Homo sapiens: one gene and its partners. The protein of the gene in region 1 interacts with the protein of each later gene in a biochemical or structural test. Each region holds a gene or a part of one and is shown in the gene's direction. Other genes may lie near its edges.

The links.
Region 2: of the proteins of RPA2 (region 1) and CDK1, one has a biochemical effect on the other in vitro, tested with the Homo sapiens proteins (2 studies listed by BioGRID).
Region 3: the proteins of RPA2 (region 1) and PRIM2 interact in a biophysical measurement, tested with the Homo sapiens proteins (one study listed by IntAct).
Region 4: of the proteins of RPA2 (region 1) and ATM, one has a biochemical effect on the other in vitro, tested with the Homo sapiens proteins (3 studies listed by BioGRID).
Region 5: the proteins of RPA2 (region 1) and STAT3 form a complex in vitro, tested with the Homo sapiens proteins (one study listed by BioGRID).
Region 6: the proteins of RPA2 (region 1) and WAS form a complex in vitro, tested with the Homo sapiens proteins (one study listed by BioGRID).
Region 7: the proteins of RPA2 (region 1) and RNF20 form a complex in vitro, tested with the Homo sapiens proteins (one study listed by BioGRID).

Annotation. Positions count from the first base shown.
Region 1 is NC_000001.11:27,897,576-27,901,075, reverse strand, and holds part of RPA2 (replication protein A 32 kDa subunit), read left to right. Parts: intron 1-3,368; coding exon 3,369-3,443; intron 3,444-3,500. UniProt on the Homo sapiens protein: As part of the heterotrimeric replication protein A complex (RPA/RP-A), binds and stabilizes single-stranded DNA intermediates that form during DNA replication or upon DNA stress.
Region 2 is NC_000010.11:60,791,915-60,795,352, forward strand, and holds the end of CDK1 (cyclin-dependent kinase 1), read left to right. Parts: coding exon 1-139; intron 140-233; coding exon 234-375; intron 376-1,962; coding exon 1,963-2,061; 3' UTR 2,062-2,938; downstream 2,939-3,438. UniProt on the Homo sapiens protein: Plays a key role in the control of the eukaryotic cell cycle by modulating the centrosome cycle as well as mitotic onset; promotes G2-M transition via association with multiple interphase cyclins.
Region 3 is NC_000006.12:57,530,630-57,534,129, forward strand, and holds part of PRIM2 (DNA primase large subunit), read left to right. Parts: intron 1-1,781; coding exon 1,782-1,854; intron 1,855-3,500. UniProt on the Homo sapiens protein: Regulatory subunit of the DNA primase complex and component of the DNA polymerase alpha complex (also known as the alpha DNA polymerase-primase complex) which play an essential role in the initiation of DNA synthesis.
Region 4 is NC_000011.10:108,327,567-108,331,066, forward strand, and holds part of ATM (serine-protein kinase ATM), read left to right. Parts: intron 1-78; coding exon 79-192; intron 193-1,454; coding exon 1,455-1,672; intron 1,673-2,647; coding exon 2,648-2,855; intron 2,856-3,500.
Region 5 is NC_000017.11:42,312,824-42,315,442, reverse strand, and holds the end of STAT3 (signal transducer and activator of transcription 3), read left to right. Parts: 3' UTR 1-2,119; downstream 2,120-2,619. UniProt on the Homo sapiens protein: Signal transducer and transcription activator that mediates cellular responses to interleukins, KITLG/SCF, LEP and other growth factors. Once activated, recruits coactivators, such as NCOA1 or MED1, to the promoter region of the target gene.
Region 6 is NC_000023.11:48,682,399-48,686,598, forward strand, and holds the start of WAS (actin nucleation-promoting factor WAS), read left to right. Parts: upstream 1-1,400; 5' UTR 1,401-1,455; coding exon 1,456-1,587; intron 1,588-1,884; coding exon 1,885-2,025; intron 2,026-3,148; coding exon 3,149-3,235; intron 3,236-3,335; coding exon 3,336-3,438; intron 3,439-3,547; coding exon 3,548-3,589; intron 3,590-3,682; coding exon 3,683-3,736; intron 3,737-4,200. UniProt on the Homo sapiens protein: Effector protein for Rho-type GTPases that regulates actin filament reorganization via its interaction with the Arp2/3 complex. Important for efficient actin polymerization. Possible regulator of lymphocyte and platelet function.
Region 7 is NC_000009.12:101,557,853-101,560,848, forward strand, and holds part of RNF20 (E3 ubiquitin-protein ligase BRE1A), read left to right. Parts: intron 1-2,948; coding exon 2,949-2,996. UniProt on the Homo sapiens protein: Component of the RNF20/40 E3 ubiquitin-protein ligase complex that mediates monoubiquitination of 'Lys-120' of histone H2B (H2BK120ub1).

The DNA of each region.
Region 1 (3,500 bases):
AACCCTGCTACTGCTTTCTCAACTAAACTTATGGAGTAGTCTAAATCCTTTATTGTCGTTTTAACAATGTTCACAGCATCTTCACTAGGAGGAGATTCCATCTCAAGAAACCAGTTTATTTGCTCATCCATGAGAAGCAACTCCTTTGAGAGGCCCAGGCGGCCAGATAGATCATTTGAGGTCAGGAGTTTGAGACCACCCTGGCCAGCATGGTGAAACCTCGTCTCTACTAAAAATAAAAAATTTAGCTGGGCATGGTGGTACATGCCTGTAATCCTGGCTACTCGGGAGGGTGAGGCAGGAGAATCACTTGAACCTGAGAGATGGAGGTTGCAGTGAGCCAAAATTGTGCCACTGCCCTCCAGCCTGGGTAACAGAGTGAGGCTCAGTCTCAAAAAAAAGGAAGCAACTCCTCATCCACTCAAGTTTTACCATAAAGTTACAGCAATTCAGTTATATCTTTAAGCTCCATTTCTAATTCCAGTTCTCCTGCTATTTCCACCACATCTGCTGTTACTTGCCCCACTGAAGGTGGAGGTAGCAGTGAGCCCAGATTGTGCCATTGCACTCCAGCCTGGGTGACAGAGCGAGACCTTATCTCAAAAAAAAAAAAAAAATCTTAAGCAGCCACCCAATATATACTTCAGATTAAAAAAGAGCTGTTGGCCAGGTGCGGTGGCTCATGCGTGTAATCTCAGCACTTTGGGAGACTGAGGCAGGTGGATCACTTGAGGCCAGGAGTTTGACACCAGCCTGGCCAATAAGGTAAAACCCCGTCTCTACTAAAAATGCAAAAACTAGCCGGGCACAGTGGTGCATGCCTGTAATCCCAGCTACTCAGGAGGCTGAGGCAGGAGAATCACTTGAACCCGGGAGGCACAGGCTGCAGTGAGCCGAGATCCCACCATTGTAATCCGTCCTGGATGATAAAACGAGACCTTATCAAAAAACCAAATAAATAAATCTCAGCTGGGTTCGGTGGCTGACGCCTGTAATCCCAACACTTTGGGAGGCGGAGGCGGGTGGATCACCTGAAGTCAGGAGTTCAAGACTAGCCTGGTCAATGTGGCAAAACCCTGTCTATTAAAAATACAAAAGCCGGGCACCGTGGCTCACGCCTGTAATCCCAGCACTTTGGGAGGCCGAGGCGGGCGGATCACGAGGTCAGGAGATCGAGACCATCCTGGTTAACAGGGTGAAACCTTGTCTCTACTAAAAATACAAAAAATTAGCCGGGCGTGGTGGCGGGCGCCTGTAGTCCCAGCTACTAGGGAGGCTGAGGCAGGAGAATGGTGTGAACCCATAAGGCGGAGCTTGCAGTGAGCTGAGATCCCACCACTGCACTCCAGCCTGGGCGACAGAGCGAGACTCTGTCTCAAAAAAAAAGAAAAAAATTGTTCATATTATTTCTATGGTTTCTTTTATTATAATTAAACCTATGATCTACATGGAATATATTTTGATAAAAGGAGTTGAGGTAGAGATCTTTTCTCAAGTGGATTCAAAATGTTGTATATGGGAATACAATTGTTTTGTTTGTGTGGTTTTTTTTTTTTTTTTTTCTTTTTTTTTTTGAGATAGAGTCCTGCTCTGTTGCCCAGCCTGGAGTGCAGTGGCACAGTCTCTCACTGCAACCTCTGCCTCCTGGGTTCAAGTGATTCTCCTGCCTCAGCCTCCCGAGTAGCTGGGACTACAGGCACCCACCACCACACCTGGCTAATCTTTGCATTTTTAGTAGAGACAGGGTTTCCCTGTTAGCCAGGCTGGTCTCGAACTCCTGACCTCGTGATCCGCCCGCCTCAGCCTCCCAAAGAGCTGGGATTACAGGCGTGAGCCACTGTGCCCACCCTTTTTTTTGTATTATTAACAGAGGCAGGGTTTCACCACGTTGGCCAGGCTGGTCTCGAACTCCTAACCTCAAGTGACTTGCTCGCCTTGGCCTCCCAAAATGCTAGGATTACAGGCATGAGTCACTGCACCTGGCCAGAGTTTTTATTTTTAAGCATATATTTTCTAGTTTTTTGTTTGTTTTTAGAGACGAGGTCTCACTATGTTGCCCAGGCTGGTTTCAAACTCCTGAGCTCGAAGGATCCTCCTGCCTTGTCCTCCTAAAGTGCTAGGATAACAGGTGTGAGTCCATATACCCCGATATATTTTCAATTTTTTTTAAAGTAATACATTTTATGTAGTCAGAAAAGAACTTTAAAAATCAGCTAATGGGCCGGACACGATGGCTCAAGCCTGTAATCCCAGCACTTTGGGAGGCCGCGACGGGTGGATCATGAGGTCAGGAGATCGAGACCATCCTGGCCAACATGGGGAAACCCCGTCTCTACTAAAGATACAAAAAAAATACAAAAAAATTAACCAGGTGTGGTGGCAGGCGCCTATAGTCCCAGCTATTTGGGAGGCTGAGGCAGGAGAATCACTTAAACTTGTGAGGCAGAGGTTGCAATGAGCCGAGATCATGCCGCTCCACTCCAGTCTGGGTGACAGAGCAAGACACTTCGTCTCAAAAAAAAAAAAAAAAATCAGCTAATGTATTTTTCTTATAAATAATGTGTGCATATTCTAGGAAACTGATAAGTATTAAAATCGTTTTTAATTATCTTAGTCAACCATTATAAACAGTTTAGTGTGTATTGTCCCAAATGGGAAATCAGCTTTTTTCCATGTATCATGACTTGTTTTTCCAGGCAGTAAATAGAATTCTATGTTATCATTTGCAACAGTGTGGAGTATCCTATTATATAGAAATGTGTACTTTATGTTGGATATTTAGGTTGTTTTAAAATTTTTAATATTCTATACTATGATAAATCTAAATCTTAATGCATGTTCTTAATTACTTCCTTAAATTCCTAAAAGTAGAATTGCTTTGCCAATAAGTATATCCACCAGAAAATTGTGTGCCTGCCGGGCGTGGTGGCGGGCGCCTGTAATCCCAGCTACTGGGGAAGTTGAGGCAGGAGAATTACTCAAACCCTCCCTTGGGAGGCGGAGGTTGCAGCGAGCCAAGATCGTGCCACTGCACTCCAGCCTGGGTGACAGAGCGAGACTCCCTCTCAAAAAAAGAAAAAAGAAAATTGTGTGCCTAAGAGCTTGAACGAGAGTGTCACAATTGTTTGCTTTTTTATGATGTGCTACAGAACTTTGGAACTGATAATTACCTTTAGAGATATTTTTATTCTAATTCCTGGTTTTACAAAATAAGTTGTAAAAGGCAGGGCAAACTACTTAATGCCATTTTAGGATCCTTTAACTCTTCTACTTCGTAACTTTCTCTTTCTATACATAATATAGAAACGTTAAAGAGGCTTTTACCAGCATCACTAAAACTTTAATGACATGTTTGTATTTTATGTTAGGACACCAGCAGTGAAAACACTGTGGTTCCTCCAGAAACATATGTGAAAGTGGCAGGCCACCTGAGATCTTTTCAGGTAAAGTCAGAATAAAATAACAGTTAAAGTGTTTTTGCATGAAGCAGTTTCTAGATT
Region 2 (3,438 bases), on another chromosome or scaffold:
CAGAAGTATTGCTGGGGTCAGCTCGTTACTCAACTCCAGTTGACATTTGGAGTATAGGCACCATATTTGCTGAACTAGCAACTAAGAAACCACTTTTCCATGGGGATTCAGAAATTGATCAACTCTTCAGGATTTTCAGGTAGCTATTAAAAACTGAGATAATAAAGGTAACATATATGTAACAATGAGATTACATTTATGCTTTAAGAAATTTTTAATTTCCTGTTTTTTAGAGCTTTGGGCACTCCCAATAATGAAGTGTGGCCAGAAGTGGAATCTTTACAGGACTATAAGAATACATTTCCCAAATGGAAACCAGGAAGCCTAGCATCCCATGTCAAAAACTTGGATGAAAATGGCTTGGATTTGCTCTCGGTAAGGAGTGCCCTTGATACTGACTTTCAAATTATTGATGATTCTGAATATATTCAGTTCTTTGTTTTGCCTAGAAAATAGGAAGAACACTAACATTTTTGAGCTAGGTGTCTGTTATGTACATTGTATTATACTAGCTTCATTTTAGATATCAGGAGGCACTAGTGGCTTTGAGAGGAGGATTTAGCATTAGTTTTTGTTTTTTATCTGACAGGTAGCTATGGATATTCTGAGGGAGAAGCCAGGATTAATACACATTTTTTTTTTTAAGTTGCTGAATTGTAGTGGCTCTCCTTTCTAGCATTTTTGTCACTATTGAGCCCTCTTAGTTTATGCTAGACGTGTTTTTCTTATTGGTTGATATTTTAAATTATTAAAGCCATCTTCTGAATAAGCTTTATTCGCACTTTGTACCTAGTTTCTCCATCAGAAGGATCTATTGCTATACCATTGTATACATTTTCTCATTGGTCTTCGGGTTACTTTCAGAGTGTAAAGACTCCTTATGCCACAAAATTAAGCTTAGATTTCCCCCAAATCAAATACTATAAATCAGATTCCTTAGTCTAGCCACAATTGACATATCTTGGAGTGGATAAATCTTTGTTGCTGGCATTGTTCTGTGCATCATAACTTGTTTAGTGGCATGTCATCACTGTCTTCTACTCTCTAGATGCCATTAGTATACTCTTCACAGTTAGGACAACCAAAAGTGTCTCCAGATATTGCCAAATGTCTCCTGATGGGCAAAGTCTATCCCAGTTGCGAACCATTATTGTAAATTAAACTTGGTTTCAAATTTGAGCTTTATTCCTTAGCTCTGGGAACTTGGGCAAGTTACTTCCCTTCGAGCCTCAATGTCCTCATTTGTAAAATGACATTAATACCTACTTTTAGCTGTGGGAATTGAGTACCATGATTTATACAAAGCAGTTTGTATGGTGCTGGTTACATGAGAGTTCAGATGGTAACTAGTTAGTAAAAAATCTCTAGTGTGCTTGTTGATTTTATTTTATTTTAGTATTTCTTAAAGATCAAATTTAACATCAATCCTAAACTTTATTTAGCTTTTTCTGGCGCGTAAACTAACATACTAAGTTGTGTGACTATAATTCATTTAGTGACTCATTTTTAGCTATTTTTATAACACATTGTGCTATGGGGGGTTTTGGAACTTGCTGGAAGCTACATCAGAAACTGCCATAGTTAATTGCCATTTCAAGAATGTTGTAAATAACTCAGGTGGCCGTTTAATTCTCAATGTAAATATAATTAACTAGACGTCTTTCCTATATTTGTGTCTCAGTTTTAAAGCTATTTCTGGATGCTTGAGTCTTACCGTAATTGATAACAAAAAGAGGTTATTGAGAATATCTATGATTTACAGAGTAAGTTATTCTAGACCTCAAGAGTGAAATGTAGGGGAGGAGACATTTGTGTGTTAAACTAATGGAAATGCTCATTTAATAGATATTCACTGAAAGTATTAGTTTTGGTTTATTGCTAGAAAAGTTGAGGTTTTATGGAGATTTTTGTAAAAAATGGTTTATTTCCTAAATAAATATCTCTTTTTCTTTTTTCTCCCAGAAAATGTTAATCTATGATCCAGCCAAACGAATTTCTGGCAAAATGGCACTGAATCATCCATATTTTAATGATTTGGACAATCAGATTAAGAAGATGTAGCTTTCTGACAAAAAGTTTCCATATGTTATATCAACAGATAGTTGTGTTTTTATTGTTAACTCTTGTCTATTTTTGTCTTATATATATTTCTTTGTTATCAAACTTCAGCTGTACTTCGTCTTCTAATTTCAAAAATATAACTTAAAAATGTAAATATTCTATATGAATTTAAATATAATTCTGTAAATGTGTGTAGGTCTCACTGTAACAACTATTTGTTACTATAATAAAACTATAATATTGATGTCAGGAATCAGGAAAAAATTTGAGTTGGCTTAAATCATCTCAGTCCTTATGGCAGTTTTATTTTCCTGTAGTTGGAACTACTAAAATTTAGGAAAATGCTAAGTTCAAGTTTCGTAATGCTTTGAAGTATTTTTATGCTCTGAATGTTTAAATGTTCTCATCAGTTTCTTGCCATGTTGTTAACTATACAACCTGGCTAAAGATGAATATTTTTCTACTGGTATTTTAATTTTTGACCTAAATGTTTAAGCATTCGGAATGAGAAAACTATACAGATTTGAGAAATGATGCTAAATTTATAGGAGTTTTCAGTAACTTAAAAAGCTAACATGAGAGCATGCCAAAATTTGCTAAGTCTTACAAAGATCAAGGGCTGTCCGCAACAGGGAAGAACAGTTTTGAAAATTTATGAACTATCTTATTTTTAGGTAGGTTTTGAAAGCTTTTTGTCTAAGTGAATTCTTATGCCTTGGTCAGAGTAATAACTGAAGGAGTTGCTTATCTTGGCTTTCGAGTCTGAGTTTAAAACTACACATTTTGACATAGTGTTTATTAGCAGCCATCTAAAAAGGCTCTAATGTATATTTAACTAAAATTACTAGCTTTGGGAATTAAACTGTTTAACAAATAATGCTGCTCATTGTGATTCTTACCTATAAGCAGCCTAATTTGAATTATTTGCTGCAATCAAGAGAAGTGTACAATAGTTTTATTACTTTTTTAGTGTACTTCTATCCTTTTTCCAACTATATCTCCTCTATTTTTCCTCCTCGTTAACAGGCTAGAATGTGCATTCCTGGGTTACCGATTTTTACACTCAATTGGATGTGTAATGAGGGATCTATCTAATCCATCTTGTCTTGGAAATTTTGCACTCTAGAAGAAAGTGTGTCACTTTCTTCAGCAGCGAGACCTTTTAAGATTGGTGGTTTGGTTGTCCTGTTCTGTGGTCTTTGGTGGAAGCCAGTTTGTTGTAAGAGAATGTAGAGCTTATTAATGTAAGTCATTTGGGGTTATATTGTGGAGGGTTGTTTAGGATTGCATGGCAGGAATTGGGTAAATGAAAGGTAACACTAAAGATTGGAGATGGTATAATGGCATATCTACAGGTCTGTGTTTCCTTATCTGCGA
Region 3 (3,500 bases), on another chromosome or scaffold:
CTCATCCTGCTCTCAGAGTAATTCTCAGGTCCTTCTTAGCCTGTAGGAGGAGGACTTGCAGGGAGGGGAAATCTGTACCTTTTTTTTTTTCTTTTTTTTGATACAAGGTCTTACTCTGTCACCCAGGGTGGAGCATGATCTCAGCTCACTGCATCCTACACCTCCTGGGCTCAAGCCATCCTACTGCTTCAGCCTCCTGAGTAGCTGGTACTACAGGCACACACCACCATGCCTGGCCAATTTTTGTATTTTTTGTAGAGACAAGGTTTTGTCATGTTGCTTAGGCTAGTCTTGAACTTCTGGGCTCAAGCCATCTGCCTGCCTCAGCCTCCCAAAGTGCTGGGATGACAGGTGTGAGCCAGCTATATTGTGGTTTTGCTTCATAATCCATACCCATTGTTTAATCAGTAAAATTGATTGATTATGGAAACAACAGCCTGTCTACAGAGCATCTTGAGCGTATATGTGGTTCAGCAGGTAGAATCTGTAACTGAGCAGATAGAAAGTAGTATCTGGATTTTTTGTTTGTTTGTTTGTTTTTTTGAGACAGTCTCGCTCTATAGCCTAGGCTCGAATGCTCAGGCATGATCATGGCTCACTACAGCCTTGATCTCCCTGGCTCAAGCAATCCTCTTACCTCAGCCTCCAGAGTAGCTAGGACTACAGGCATGCCACCATGCCCAGGTTTTTGTTTTTGTTTTAATTTTTATTATTTGTAGAGACAGAGTCTTACTCTGTTGCCCAGGTGGAATTCTTTATGATCATAATGACTCTTCACTCCAGGGTTTCCCTTTAGTTGTGGTATTTGTATAATCTTTGGTTTGATTGTGAATTTCTATGTAATCTAGCAGCTGTTTTTTGCTATGTCACACCTGCATGCACCTGAGTCTGTGTTCATGGAGTTGGGCATGAGTAGTGTGTTGTGTGAAGGAGGTCAAACATTACTGAGGTGGGTGGCTTAAGGTAGTATATACCAAGTTATGTTTCCTAATTTGAAGATAATCATGCAGGAAAATTTATTATAGGGAAGAGGATGATATGGTGCGGTGAAAAAATGGGGAATTAGGAATCAAAAGGTTTGAGTTCCCACTGCACTGCTGACTTGCTTTCTGATCCTAACAAGTTTCTAACTCCTCCAAGCCTCCATTCATCAGATGATATACAGAAACGCTCTTTCAGGGGGTTGCAAGGATCTAATTAGAGGCTATTGAAGACTCTTTGTACACTGTAAAATGCTATTCAGATATTATTTATTTTAATAAACAGTGATTGCTTTATGTCAGGCTCTTTAACAAAAATTCTTACAATTCAGACCTCCTATCAACACTGCAAAGCAGGCATTATTATCGCCATTAGTCAATAAGGCACCTGGCATACAGAGAGTAACTAAGTAACTTGCTCACCTACTACTTTTAAGTGATGATTCCCAATTTAAGTTCCAGCTGCTTTTTTGCTATGTTGTCGTGCTGTTAATAAAGGATAAATGGTAGAGGTTTGAACTTTAACAACAACTTGGATTATGCTTCTAAAAAAATGGAAGTGGTGCTCTAGACTAGGAGTCAGGAGGTTCAGACTGTTACTATATTTTTCTATTATTTTGGGGTAAGTTACTTAAATTAATTTCATTAAATACGTTTAAAACACTTGGCTATGTTTCTGCTAAGGTTTACATGTAAAATGCTTTCTTATTTTAATCATTTTCAGAATTTAAAAAATTTCCTTCGAAGGGATCAAAAGTATTTTATGAATCTGTTTTAATATTTTTTTTTCTTTTTTTAAAGTCATTCCTACACTGGCCAAGATTACAGTACCCAGGGAAATGTTGGGAAGATTTCTTTAGATCAGATTGATTTGGTAAGTAGAACATTATTTTAAACTTAGAACTTTATCAATGGAGGGAACATAGATTTTCTTAAATCAAAGACTTTTGGGTGAGGAGATAGAATATTATTTCACTGCTTGCTGATTAATTTTAAAGAAAATCCCATGTCCCACTTAGATGATTTTAAAAAAAATCATAAGAAAATCATTTAATCAGAAAATTATCTGTACTTTTATGAAAACAGAATTTAATCAACTATTCCAAACAGGAATTCTTTTAAATAGCTAAATGGAGTTTGTGTTTACATTTAAATAGTGTATACATTTAATAAAGGGGAAATGGAAAACACTAAGTGTATTAGTTTGTTAGGGTTGTCATGACAACGGAAATTTATTTTCTCACAGTCTAGAGGCTCGAAATCCAAGATCAAAGGGATAGTAGGTTTGATTTCTTCCAGGGCCTTTCTTGTCTCACAGATAGCTGCCTTCTCCTTGTGTTCTCCTGTGGTTTTCCCACTGCTTGCATACATCCCTGGTGTCTCTTCTTTTTGTAAGGACACTGAGTATGTGAGACCAGGGCCCCACCCCCATGGCCTCCTTTAATCTTAATGAGTTCTTTAAAGGCCCCATCTCTAAATATAGTCACATTTGGAGCTACTAGAGGTCAGGACTTGATATATGAATTTCAGGGGGAGAGGACAATTCATCATCCAGTGTAGGCTACGAGATTAATAGATAGCTTATTTTAGCATCATTTGACTTTGTGGTTCCATAGGGTAGCGTACTTTGCCATACTTGTAGAATTTCTCTTTAATACATAACAGCATTTGCACTCCATACACAAAGGGAAAATAAGCCAGCCATAAATAATCTTGGGTTAGACAACTACCAAATTATTCACAATAAATTAAAAATACACAGGGATTTTAATGCTTGGAAACAAGAACTGTAATAAGACTAGTAGAGAAAGAACGTGAGTTTGGATCAGAATGAATAGGTCGTCTTCCATTTGAAAAATTATAAAAAAGTACTTGCAGTTAATATGTCTAGAAATAACAGTAGGGTTGCCTACTTTACACAGTTGATTTGTTGATTTGAAATTTGTTCTCAAAGATGTCCCATCTTTTAATTTTTTTATTAAACACTTATCTCTAACAGTCCACTTTCTCACTTCCACTCATGTGATTTGTGCTTATATAATGTGAATGGTTGGAGGTTAATTCTGTTCTTAGTTCTAGCTAGATGTTTCCCTATTCACAAGCAAATGTGAATTTCATTGGATACTGTTGGAGTTCATAGAAATATTAATTCATTTAATGGATATGTATTGAGCCCATCAGTTATGTAGCAGCCATTGTGCTGTGGATACAGAAGTGAGGAAAACAGAAAATGTCCCTGCCTTCATGGACCTTACATGAGGGAGAGGGACAACATAATAAATAATAAATGAGCAATATAATGTTAAGTGCTATGATGATGATCCTGTCATGGGTCTGTGCCTGAGACCCCGTGGTGAGTAATACAGATGTATCTTTTTCTGGACTGCCTCCTAACTCTGTATCTATATTGTTTGATCTTCACAACAGCATGTCATTTGCATATCCCTTGGTATTTGCAACTCTTCTCCAAATGTTTTCTTTAGTTTTTTCTTCTAACAAATCTGGCTTTCTCAATGCTGT
Region 4 (3,500 bases), on another chromosome or scaffold:
TTTTCCCCGTACATGAAGGGCAGTTGGGTACAGTCATGGTAATGCATTATATTTTAAGATTTTGCCTTTCTTATACAGAACAATCCCAGCCTAAAACTTACATACACAGAATGTCTGAGGGTTTGTGGCAACTGGTTAGCAGAAACGTGCTTAGAAAATCCTGCGGTCATCATGCAGACCTATCTAGAAAAGGTAAGATTTTTGGAGCAACCCTTAAGATAGTTACTTAGCATGAATATGCTTCATCTTTTCATCAAGATCAATATATTTCCAAAGCAAATAAAAGTATGGTTTTATTTTTCTATATATTATTACTGTTGTAGCTCTGTATAGTCTCTAGGGTGGAGTGAAACATTGTTACAAAACAAAGCAGCCAATTTTGAAAGTAAGCCCAAGTATAGTATCTCTTCTTCCTCCTTCCTACCTCCACTACCAGCTACCCTTTCAGCAGGTTGCTTCTGATCATTTCTTCATTTATGCATCTACAAAAATAACTGATTAAGAATAGGCAAGTCAGCCCTTGCTCTTCATTAGCCCAGCCACCCACAAGTAAAGGCTTCAATATACTAGCCCCTTTGACTTTCCTGTTTCTCCCTCTTATTCCTTTAGATTCACTAATTTTGGAAATAGTTACCTCACTAAATAAGTGTAACATGAAACACATGATGCGATTGTCTTTCTTTTCTTTTCTTTTCTTTGAGATGAAGTCTCTCTCTGTCGCCCAAGCTGGAGTGCAGTGGCGCAATCTCGGCTCACTGCAACCTCTGCCTCCTGGGTTCAAGCGATTCTCCTGCCTCAGCTTCCCAAGTAGCTGGGACTACAGGAGTGTGCCACCACACCCGGCTAATATTTTTTATTTTTAGTAGAGACGGTTTCGCCACATTGGCCAGTCTGGTCTCGAACTCCTGACCTCAAGTGATCCACCTGCCTCGGCCTCCCAAAGTGCTGGCATTACAGGCTTGAGCCACCACACCCAGCCTGATTGTCTTTAAATTTTATAAAGTTCTCTGTTTTTGCAGAGTTCTTTACAAGTATTAGCTGTCTGGGTTATTTCTACACTGTCAAAGTTGTTTTGAAAAGTCAAGAAAATACCATAGTTCAGGGCTGTCCAATCTTTTGGCTTCCCTGGGCCACATTGCAAGAAGAATTGCCTTGGGCCACACATAAAATATACTAACATTAATGATAGCTAATGAGCTTAAAAAAAATCACAAAAGAAATCTCATAATGTTTTAAGAAAATGTACGAATTTGTGTTGGGCCACATTCAAAGCCGTCCTGGGCCACATGCGGCCCATGGGCCGTGGGTTGGACAAGTTTGCAATAGTTCATATAATTTAGCTAGCTTTTATATGTATATAAGTTAAATTTTAGTGTATTACCTTAATTTGAGTGATTCTTTAGATGTATTTAGTATTTGTAAATATAATTTAAATTGGTTGTGTTTTCTTGAAGGCAGTAGAAGTTGCTGGAAATTATGATGGAGAAAGTAGTGATGAGCTAAGAAATGGAAAAATGAAGGCATTTCTCTCATTAGCCCGGTTTTCAGATACTCAATACCAAAGAATTGAAAACTACATGAAATCATCGGAATTTGAAAACAAGCAAGCTCTCCTGAAAAGAGCCAAAGAGGAAGTAGGTCTCCTTAGGGAACATAAAATTCAGACAAACAGGTAACTAGGTTTCTACAAGTGACAATTTTATGTTCACCAGTTAACTGAGTGAGTGTTTTTGCATAGAAAGAGTGACTTGGTCTTTTTATCTGATATAGTTTTGAGCTCTAAAGGTCGGCTTAACTATATATAGATTATCTTGGTCTTTTGGGTTCTTTTCGGTTTTTGTTTTTTGTTTTTTTTTTTGAGACAAGGTCTCACTCTGTCACCCAGGCTGGAGTACAGTGGCGTGATCACTGTACTCCAGCTCACTGCAACCTCGACCTCCTGGACTCAATTGATTCTCCCCCTGAGCCCCCGAAATAGCTGGGGCTACAGGTGCACGCCATACCTGGCTAATTTTTGTATTTTTTGTAGAGATGGGGTTTTGCCATGTTGCCCAGGTTGGTCTCAAACTCATGGGCTCAAACGATCTGCCCACCTTGGCCGCCCAAAGTGCTGGGATTACAGGTGTGAGGCACTGTGCCCTGTCTGTCTTGGTCCTACTGTAGTTAATCACAAATTAGTATGTAAGATATTGACGTGTTCTTTTGTGAATAATTCATGCTCTGCTTCTAAGTTCATTGTGGAGAATATAGATATTAGCTTTCTGTTTTGCTTTTTTGGTTTGTTTGTTGGTATCATAGTGGAAAAGGAGATAGATATTGAAATTAATTACAAAAGTTACCTATTTTGATGTAATTAAATCCCTTTATTTAAGCCTGTCTTGAATCTGTATATTTTAGTGTAAGCAGAGGTGTAAGTTAGCTAAATAGCTTGGGGAGAGTCCCCTTTGTCCTTTGATGCTTAGGAAGGTGTGTGAATTGCACAGTTAAGACAAAAGTAAGTTTATTCCCTTTATAATCCTTAGAAGTTTGCTTTTTTCCCTGGGATAAAAACCCAACTTTTTTCATTAAATGTTGTATATCATGTGTGATTTTGTAGTTCTGTTAAAGTTCATGGCTTTTGTGTTTTACCTTAATTATTCTATGCAAGATACACAGTAAAGGTTCAGCGAGAGCTGGAGTTGGATGAATTAGCCCTGCGTGCACTGAAAGAGGATCGTAAACGCTTCTTATGTAAAGCAGTTGAAAATTATATCAACTGCTTATTAAGTGGAGAAGAACATGATATGTGGGTATTCCGACTTTGTTCCCTCTGGCTTGAAAATTCTGGAGTTTCTGAAGTCAATGGCATGATGAAGGCAAGTGTTACTCAGCCCAATATTCTACCCTGTGCTTGAAAAACTTAGACATAAGCCCCTTGATGTCAGGAATCGTGTATACCTCTTTGTATTCCTAGCACTTGGTCCAGTGCTCTACACATAAGTAGCATTTTGTAGTTTTCTAAACTTTGATCCATATTTAGGATTATTTACAAGTTCTAGTCTTGTTTCTACAAAAGTTCCTTTGTATTATATAAGCTGACAAGCTGTAAATGATGCAAGTTTGTGTGGAGGTGATAGAATTTAGCTTGGTCCTATGTCTTTGCAGTTACCATAGGAGAGGGTCTAGAATGGGGCATTAGATTGGAGGATTTAGAAAGCAGTTAAAGATGATGTGATCACAGGTGGGTTTTCCCCCTGCTGCAGAAATATGGGATTTTTACAATAAATTACTTTTGTAAGTAGAGAAAATATATTTTTCAGAAAATGTCAAGACAGCAGTATTGTATAAGTTTTTCTTTGAAAACCTTAGATTATAGTGATGACACCTAATATTAAATTTAAGTTGACAAGCTATATATTGTTAGTCAATTTGAAGGTTAGAGATAAAATGTTTCTCCTGCAGGAAAATAATAAGACTCATAATAGATACAGTCAATCTCTGCTGTAGTATACACTAAATAT
Region 5 (2,619 bases), on another chromosome or scaffold:
TGTTCCCCTGCCCTCCTTTCTCAGCAGCTTTTTGTTATTGTTGTTGTTGTTCTTAGACAAGTGCCTCCTGGTGCCTGCGGCATCCTTCTGCCTGTTTCTGTAAGCAAATGCCACAGGCCACCTATAGCTACATACTCCTGGCATTGCACTTTTTAACCTTGCTGACATCCAAATAGAAGATAGGACTATCTAAGCCCTAGGTTTCTTTTTAAATTAAGAAATAATAACAATTAAAGGGCAAAAAACACTGTATCAGCATAGCCTTTCTGTATTTAAGAAACTTAAGCAGCCGGGCATGGTGGCTCACGCCTGTAATCCCAGCACTTTGGGAGGCCGAGGCGGATCATAAGGTCAGGAGATCAAGACCATCCTGGCTAACACGGTGAAACCCCGTCTCTACTAAAAGTACAAAAAATTAGCTGGGTGTGGTGGTGGGCGCCTGTAGTCCCAGCTACTCGGGAGGCTGAGGCAGGAGAATCGCTTGAACCTGAGAGGCGGAGGTTGCAGTGAGCCAAAATTGCACCACTGCACACTGCACTCCATCCTGGGCGACAGTCTGAGACTCTGTCTCAAAAAAAAAAAAAAAAAAAAGAAACTTCAGTTAACAGCCTCCTTGGTGCTTTAAGCATTCAGCTTCCTTCAGGCTGGTAATTTATATAATCCCTGAAACGGGCTTCAGGTCAAACCCTTAAGACATCTGAAGCTGCAACCTGGCCTTTGGTGTTGAAATAGGAAGGTTTAAGGAGAATCTAAGCATTTTAGACTTTTTTTTATAAATAGACTTATTTTCCTTTGTAATGTATTGGCCTTTTAGTGAGTAAGGCTGGGCAGAGGGTGCTTACAACCTTGACTCCCTTTCTCCCTGGACTTGATCTGCTGTTTCAGAGGCTAGGTTGTTTCTGTGGGTGCCTTATCAGGGCTGGGATACTTCTGATTCTGGCTTCCTTCCTGCCCCACCCTCCCGACCCCAGTCCCCCTGATCCTGCTAGAGGCATGTCTCCTTGCGTGTCTAAAGGTCCCTCATCCTGTTTGTTTTAGGAATCCTGGTCTCAGGACCTCATGGAAGAAGAGGGGGAGAGAGTTACAGGTTGGACATGATGCACACTATGGGGCCCCAGCGACGTGTCTGGTTGAGCTCAGGGAATATGGTTCTTAGCCAGTTTCTTGGTGATATCCAGTGGCACTTGTAATGGCGTCTTCATTCAGTTCATGCAGGGCAAAGGCTTACTGATAAACTTGAGTCTGCCCTCGTATGAGGGTGTATACCTGGCCTCCCTCTGAGGCTGGTGACTCCTCCCTGCTGGGGCCCCACAGGTGAGGCAGAACAGCTAGAGGGCCTCCCCGCCTGCCCGCCTTGGCTGGCTAGCTCGCCTCTCCTGTGCGTATGGGAACACCTAGCACGTGCTGGATGGGCTGCCTCTGACTCAGAGGCATGGCCGGATTTGGCAACTCAAAACCACCTTGCCTCAGCTGATCAGAGTTTCTGTGGAATTCTGTTTGTTAAATCAAATTAGCTGGTCTCTGAATTAAGGGGGAGACGACCTTCTCTAAGATGAACAGGGTTCGCCCCAGTCCTCCTGCCTGGAGACAGTTGATGTGTCATGCAGAGCTCTTACTTCTCCAGCAACACTCTTCAGTACATAATAAGCTTAACTGATAAACAGAATATTTAGAAAGGTGAGACTTGGGCTTACCATTGGGTTTAAATCATAGGGACCTAGGGCGAGGGTTCAGGGCTTCTCTGGAGCAGATATTGTCAAGTTCATGGCCTTAGGTAGCATGTATCTGGTCTTAACTCTGATTGTAGCAAAAGTTCTGAGAGGAGCTGAGCCCTGTTGTGGCCCATTAAAGAACAGGGTCCTCAGGCCCTGCCCGCTTCCTGTCCACTGCCCCCTCCCCATCCCCAGCCCAGCCGAGGGAATCCCGTGGGTTGCTTACCTACCTATAAGGTGGTTTATAAGCTGCTGTCCTGGCCACTGCATTCAAATTCCAATGTGTACTTCATAGTGTAAAAATTTATATTATTGTGAGGTTTTTTGTCTTTTTTTTTTTTTTTTTTTTTTGGTATATTGCTGTATCTACTTTAACTTCCAGAAATAAACGTTATATAGGAACCGTCTGATAGCATGGCAGCTCTGTTTGGCTGGTGGAGGCTTCCTTTTCCCCTGCATAAGTTCTGAGGGGGCCTCACACACAGGTGGGGCCTGGGATAAGGGCCGGAAAGGGTCTTGAGAGGAGGTGGTTGCCTTAATCCCCCCCGCCAACCCCCTTATGTTAGCCACCAGCCCGGAGGTAAGGGGTGCCTGGAGGAGCAGGAGGTCAATAGTCCAACGGCAGAAAGGTGTCAGAGTGGAGGCCTCCCTCCCCGGCCCCCTCCTACCCCCCAGAGCGGCCTCGTCCTGTCTGGGGTCAGATAAGCCACCTAAGCGGGGTGGGGGGTAGATACTCCCACCGCACCAAGGCCTCCCCTTCCACAGTTGGCTCCTTTATCACTTTCCCTTCAGTTCACCCAGCGGGGACAACACGCAGACACCCGGTGGTGGCTGCAGGGCCCCCGGCAGCCAGCGGTGATAATGCAGGGAAAGGCGCCCCAACCTCAGCTACGCGGGCGCCCACAGG
Region 6 (4,200 bases), on another chromosome or scaffold:
TGGCTCGCACTCCGGGCAAAGGGGTCAGAACAGTGACTGGCACACACGTTAAGTGCTATGTGAGTGTTAAGATAAAACTAGGATGTCCAGTGGGGAGAAAGCAAGCCTTTGAAGATTATGTGCTTTTACAAACTTCAAGTGCAATGAAAACTAAACAAGATGTTGTTCAGGCATTCATATATGATATAAAGTTCCTTTCTTTAAAAAAGGGATGGGCTGGGCACGGTGGCTCACGCCTGTAATTCTAATACTTTGGGAGGCCGAGGCAGGTGGATCACGAGGTCGAGAAATCGAGACCATCCTGGCCAACATGGTGAAACCCTGTCTCTACTAAAAATACAAAAAAATTAGCTGGGCGTGGTGGCGTGTGCCTGTAGTCCCAGCTACTTGGGAGGCTGAGGCAGGAGAGTCACTTGAACCCGGGAGGCAAAGGTTGCAGTGAGCCGAGATCGTGCCACCGCACTCCAGCCTGGCGACAGAGTGAGACTCCATCTCAAAAAAAAAAAGAAAAAAAAAAGTATGACAAGCAGAAAGTAATTTGGGAGCTGCGGGGAGGCAAGGGTAAGGGATGGGGAAGTGGACCAGAGGCATATGCGTCATTGGCAGTGTCTAAGCACTCACGATAGGCGTGGATCACAGGGGCTCGCTCTGTAATTAAAAGGAAAAGGGTTTTTGTTGTGTTGTTGTTGTTGCTGTTTTTGAGACAAGGGTCTTGCTCTGTCATCATCCAGGCTGGAGTGCAGTGGTGCAGTCTCAGCTCACTGCAACCTCCGCCTCCTGGGTTCAAGCGATTCTCCTGCCTCAGCCTCCTGAGCAGCTAGGACTACAGGTGTGTGCCACCATGCCTGGCTAATTTTTGTATTTTTTAGTGGAAATGGGGTTTTGCCATGTTGCCCAGGCTCGTCTTGAACTCCTGACCTCAAGTGATCCACTCGTCTCGGCCTCCCAAAGTGCTGGGATTACAGGTGTGAGCTATTGTCCCCAGCCAAAAGGAAAAGTTTTACTGTAGTAACCCTTCCGGACTAGGGACCTCGGGCCTCAGCCTCAGGCTACCTAGGTGCTTTAGAAAGGAGGCCACCCAGGCCCATGACTACTCCTTGCCACAGGGAGCCCTGCACACAGATGTGCTAAGCTCTCGCTGCCAGCCAGAGGGAGGAGGGTCTGAGCCAGTCAGAAGGAGATGGGCCCCAGAGAGTAAGAAAGGGGGAGGAGGACCCAAGCTGATCCAAAAGGTGGGTCTAAGCAGTCAAGTGGAGGAGGGTTCCAATCTGATGGCGGAGGGCCCAAGCTCAGCCTAACGAGGAGGCCAGGCCCACCAAGGGGCCCCTGGAGGACTTGTTTCCCTTGTCCCTTGTGGTTTTTTGCATTTCCTGTTCCCTTGCTGCTCATTGCGGAAGTTCCTCTTCTTACCCTGCACCCAGAGCCTCGCCAGAGAAGACAAGGGCAGAAAGCACCATGAGTGGGGGCCCAATGGGAGGAAGGCCCGGGGGCCGAGGAGCACCAGCGGTTCAGCAGAACATACCCTCCACCCTCCTCCAGGACCACGAGAACCAGCGACTCTTTGAGATGCTTGGACGAAAATGCTTGGTGAGCTGGGGATCTCCTGCCCCCGCCCCGTCCCCACCGTTTCTTCCTCTTCCTCTCCTCCTTCTCTCTCTTCCCCTCCTCCCGCTCCTCCTTTCCCTCTCCATCATCTCCTCTCCTAGAATTTCCCGTCATAATCCACCCTTCCCAGGAAGATCTCAATGTCTACTTGCCTTCCCTCTGGCTGCAGCTCTTCCTTTGGGCCCATGACTGTCATGAGGCAGGAAGGACCAGGTCTGGCTCCAAGACCTTGTGGCTACCCCTGACCAGACTCCACTGACCCCTGCTTTCCTCTCCCAGACGCTGGCCACTGCAGTTGTTCAGCTGTACCTGGCGCTGCCCCCTGGAGCTGAGCACTGGACCAAGGAGCATTGTGGGGCTGTGTGCTTCGTGAAGGATAACCCCCAGAAGTCCTACTTCATCCGCCTTTACGGCCTTCAGGTGACCCCCCCACCCCCGACTGGACTTGCAAGCCAGTTCTCAACCCGCAAACCCAGATCTGTGTCCATATGTGTCCATAGCTTCAAGACCTCAGACCTGATCAGTGAATCCCTGAGCCCCAGAACCAAAGACTCATCCAGATGGCAAACTCTGACTTGCCTTTCTAAGTCTGCAATGACTGGCCCCAGTCTCCGTATCAAGATCTCTAAAGCCCCCAGTATTAGTCTGCTGCCTAAGCCTAATCTTTTCCACAAATTCCAATAAATGAGCACTGTATTTGTACCTGAACCTCAAATCTATTCTAAACTCAACATTTTGCATCCCAGGAATCTCTCATCAAAACTCCTGAACCCCAGATGTTTGCCAAGCTCCTAAGTCATAAATCTGTTCAACAAACCCCAAAGTTGAATATTCCATTGATCCTTGAACTCCAAATCTGTCCTTCTAAATCCACAGCACAGACCCCAGAGTTCCCATATTAAAATTCCTGAACACTCAAATACCGAGGTAGTTCTTAAGCAAAAAGTCTTTTCCACAATCCCCTGACCTGAACTTTCTAGGTTTAAGCCCCAAATTCATCCTTTTAAACCCATAAAGATGGACCCAGCATAACTTCCAGATCCCAAGGCTATCAAATATCCACCAAACTCCTAAACCATAACTCTCTCCACAAACCCCAAATTGCACTTACTTTAGCTGGACTCCCCGCGAAACTCCCAAGTCTATGTGTCTGAACTTCAAATCTCAACTCCAACCCCCAAATACTAGAATCCTACCTGTCATGAATTGGGGCTGGGGTGGTGGGGGAGGGCATGGATTGAATCTGTGAATGAGCCTCAACTTCCTAAGACTAGAGTCCTAAATTATGAAATTCAAGCCCCCAAGTCCCAGATCTAGGGCCCCAAACCCCAAATCCAAACCTCTCACAAAAGTGTATGGCTCCCAGACTATACCCCACAATCCACACCCTTAGACACCAACTCTCTGGTGCTGAGCTGAAAATCTCCAAACCAGACTATGAGGCTCCCAAATCCAGACACCCTGCTCCCTGCCCAGCTAACAAAAGCCTGCCACCCCCGGCGTGCCTCAGTGCCACTGTGCCTCCCACCCTACACCTCTCCAGGCTGGTCGGCTGCTCTGGGAACAGGAGCTGTACTCACAGCTTGTCTACTCCACCCCCACCCCCTTCTTCCACACCTTCGCTGGAGATGTAAGTGATCAACCAGCCCTCGGGCCTCACTTGGGGTGTGGAGAGGAGATGGGAAAGTTGCGGGGGACCTGGGAGGCGGCTGACCCCAAGGTATGTGCAGGACTGCCAAGCGGGGCTGAACTTTGCAGACGAGGACGAGGCCCAGGCCTTCCGGGCCCTCGTGCAGGAGAAGATACAAAAAAGGAATCAGAGGCAAAGTGGAGGTGAGGAGGCCACAGGGGAGGAAAGGAAGTTGGGCAGAGGTGAGTGCAAGCCTGGGGAACTAGAAAAGTCCCCTCTCATGGTCCTGGCTCCCAATCCATCTATCCACAGACAGACGCCAGCTACCCCCACCACCAACACCAGCCAATGAAGGTGAGTCCTCTAGTGCAAGTAGGGGTAATAAGGGGCTAGCCCAGGAACCTGTGGCAGGGCTGTGATAACTCTCTACACATTCCATCTTCCCAGAGAGAAGAGGAGGGCTCCCACCCCTGCCCCTGCATCCAGGTGGAGACCAAGGAGGTGCGTGCTGATTCTTCCCTGTGTCTCTGGATGGATGGGTAAGAGTGGATGGAGGAATGAGGAGTTGGATGGGTGCGTAAGTGGGTGAATGGATAGGTAGATTGATAGGTATGTGGATGGACGAGCAGGTGCATGGATGTGTGGACTGATGGATGGGTGGATGGATTGGCGGTAGATGGCTGAGTAGAGGGATGAATTGATGGGAGGATGAAAGTCTAAGTAGATAGATGCATAGGTGAATGGGTATGTGGATAAATGAATGAAAAGGTAGATGGATGACTGAGTAAATTAATCAATGAGTGAATGAATGAACAGTGAATAAATGACTAAATGACAAGTTTCAGTCAGTGAAGAAAGCATGATTGAATGAATAAATGAGTAAATGAATATTTTAACAAATTCATTAGTCAATGAGCCAGTGAATGATAAAGCATGAGGGAATGAAAACATGAATGAATCAGTGA
Region 7 (2,996 bases), on another chromosome or scaffold:
GTTATCCTTTTTGCGTTAAAGTATATGTTTACTTGTGTTCCTGTGCTGTATATTTTAAAAATTTCTGGAAGGCTGCATGAGAAACTGTTAGAATTGTTACTTCTGGATATTGGGATGAGTTGTGGGTGAGGTTAGGAGGTATGTGTGATTTTACTTTTTTTTTTTTTTTTTTAAATTTCCATAGGTTTTGGGGAACATGTGGTGTTTGGTTACATGAATAAGTTCTTTAGTGGTGATACCAAGATTTTGGTGCACCCATAACCCAAGCAGTGTACATTGTACCCAGTGTGTAGTCTATTGTACCCAGTGTGTAGTCTGTTGTCCCTTGCCTCCCTCCGCCAAGTCACCAAAGTTTATTGTATCATTCTTATGCCTTTGCGTCCTCACAGCTTAGCTCCTACTTATGAGTGAGGACATACAATGTTTGGTTTTCCATTCCTGAGTTACTTCACTTAGAATATTGGTCTCCAATTCCAATTCCATCCGGATTGCTGTGAATGCCATTATTTTGTTCCTTTTTATGGCTGAGTAGTATTCCATGGCGTGACTTTTCCTCTGGGTAGATACCCGGAAGTGGGATTGCGGAATCAAGTGGTAGGTCTACTTTTAGTTCATTAAGGACTCTCCATACTGTTTTCCATAGTGATTGTACTAGTTTACATTCCCACCAACAGTGTAAAAGTGTTCCCTTTTCATCACATCCATGCCAACACCTATTATTTTTTGATTTTTTGATTATGGCCATTCCTGCAAAGTGAGGTGGTGTTGCATTGAGGTTTTGATTTACATTTCCCTGATAATTAATGATGTTGAACATTTTTCTTATGTTCGTTGGCCATTTGTATATATTCTTTTGAGAATTGTATATTCATGTCCTTAGCCCACTTTTTGGTGGGATTGTTTGTTTTGTTCTTGCTGATTTGTTTGAGTTCCTTGTAGATTCTGGATATTAGTCCTTTGTTGGATGTATAGATTTTTTTCTCCCACTCTATGGGTTGTCTGTTTACCCTGATGATTATTTCTTTTGCTGTGCAGAAGCTTTTTCGTTTAATTAAGTTTCATCTATTTATCATTTCTTTTGTTGCATTTGCTTTTGGGTTCTTGGTCATGAAGTCTTTGCCTAAGCCATTGTCTAGAAGGATTTTTCCAATATTGCTTTCTAGAATTTTTATGGTTTCAGGTCTTAGATTTAAGTCTTTGATCCATCTTGAGTTGATTTTTGTATAGGGTGAGAGATGAGGATCTAGTTCCATTCTTCTACATGTGGCTTGCCAATTATCCTACCACCATTTGTTGAATAGGGTGTCCCTTCCCACTTTATGTTTTTGTTTGGTTTGTCAAAGATCAGTTGACTACGTATTTGGCTTTATTTCTGGGTTCTCTATTCTGTTACATTGGTTTACATGCCTATTTTTATACCAGTACCATGCTGTTTTTGTGACTATGGCTTTATAGTATAGGTTGAAGTCAGGTAATGTGATGCCTCCAGATTTGTTCATTTTGCTTAGTCTTGCTTTGGCTATGTATGCTCTTTTTTGGTTCCATATGCGTTTTAGGATTGTTTGTTCTAGTTCCGTGAAGAATGATGTTGGTATTTTGATGGGAATTGCATTTCATTTGTAGATTGCTTTTGGCAGTATGGTCATTTTCACAATATTGATTCTACCCATCCACGAGCATGGGATGTGTTTCCATTTGTTTGTGTCATCTGTGATTTCTTTCAGCAGTGTTTTGTAATTTTTCTTGTCGAGGTCTTTCACGTTCTTGGTTAAGTATATTCCTAAGTATTTTATTTTATTTTTTTTGCAGCTGTTGTCAAAGGGTTTGAGTTCTTGATATGATTCTCAGTTTGGTTGCTGTTGGTGTATAGCAGAGCTCTGATTTGTGTACATTAATTTTGTATAGTGAAGCTTTGCTGAATTCATTTACCAGTTCTAGCACCTTTCTGGATGAGTCTTTAGGGTTTTCTAGGTATATGATAATGTAATCAGCAAACAGTGACAGTTTGACTTCCTCATTACCAATTTGGATGCCTTTTATTTCTTTCTCTTGTCTGATTGCTCTGGCTAGGACTTCCAGTGCCATGTTGAATGGAAGTGGTGAGAGTGGCATCTGTGTCTTGTTCCAGTTCTCAGGGGGAATGCTTTCAACTTTTCCTTGTTCAGTATAATGTTGGCTGTGGGATTGTCATAGATGGCTTTTATTACCTTAAGGTATGTCCCTTCTATGCTGATTTTGCTAGAGTTTTAATCATAAAAGGATGCTGGATTTTGTCAAATGCTTTTTCTGCATCTATTGAGATGATCATGTGATTTTTTAAAAATTCTGTTTATATGGTGTATCAGATTTATTGACTTGTGGATGTCAAACCATCCCTGTATCCCTGGTGTGAGACCCACTTGATCATGGTGGACTATCTTTTTGATATGCTTTTTGAAGGCAGTGTGAGAAACTGTTAGAATGGTTACCTCTACATATTGGGATGAGTTGTGGGTGAGGTTAGGAGGTGGGTGTTTGTGATTTTACTTTTTACACTTTAATATTGTTTGATTCTACTTTGTGCATTAATTTCAAAAAAGACTCTTTTAGAATGTCTAGCCATTCTGAAGGAAATACTCTTGGACTTTTGTTTGAGTTCTAATTTATATGTTATAGTATGAATTGCCAGGTTTTAAGCATTAGCATGCATTCTCTATTTTTGGCAATTTGGAAAAGAATCTTTTCAGTCATTTTTCAGACTCTTACTGAATCTTCCACAATATTTTATATTAAAAGTAAAGCTTTCAGTTATCATAGTCTTGATGTATTTTGAAGGGTTCATGGGCAAAATCAGTAATAGTTTGAGATTTCTAACATACTGTATTTTGTGGGCTTATAGATTAACAGAATAGTTTTTTTTCTTTTTTTAATCTTTTCATTTGTGTTAAAATCTGATTTTCTGTTCAAAGGTTGATGCCCAGCTACAGGTAGTAAGGAAACTGGAAGAGAAGGAGCAT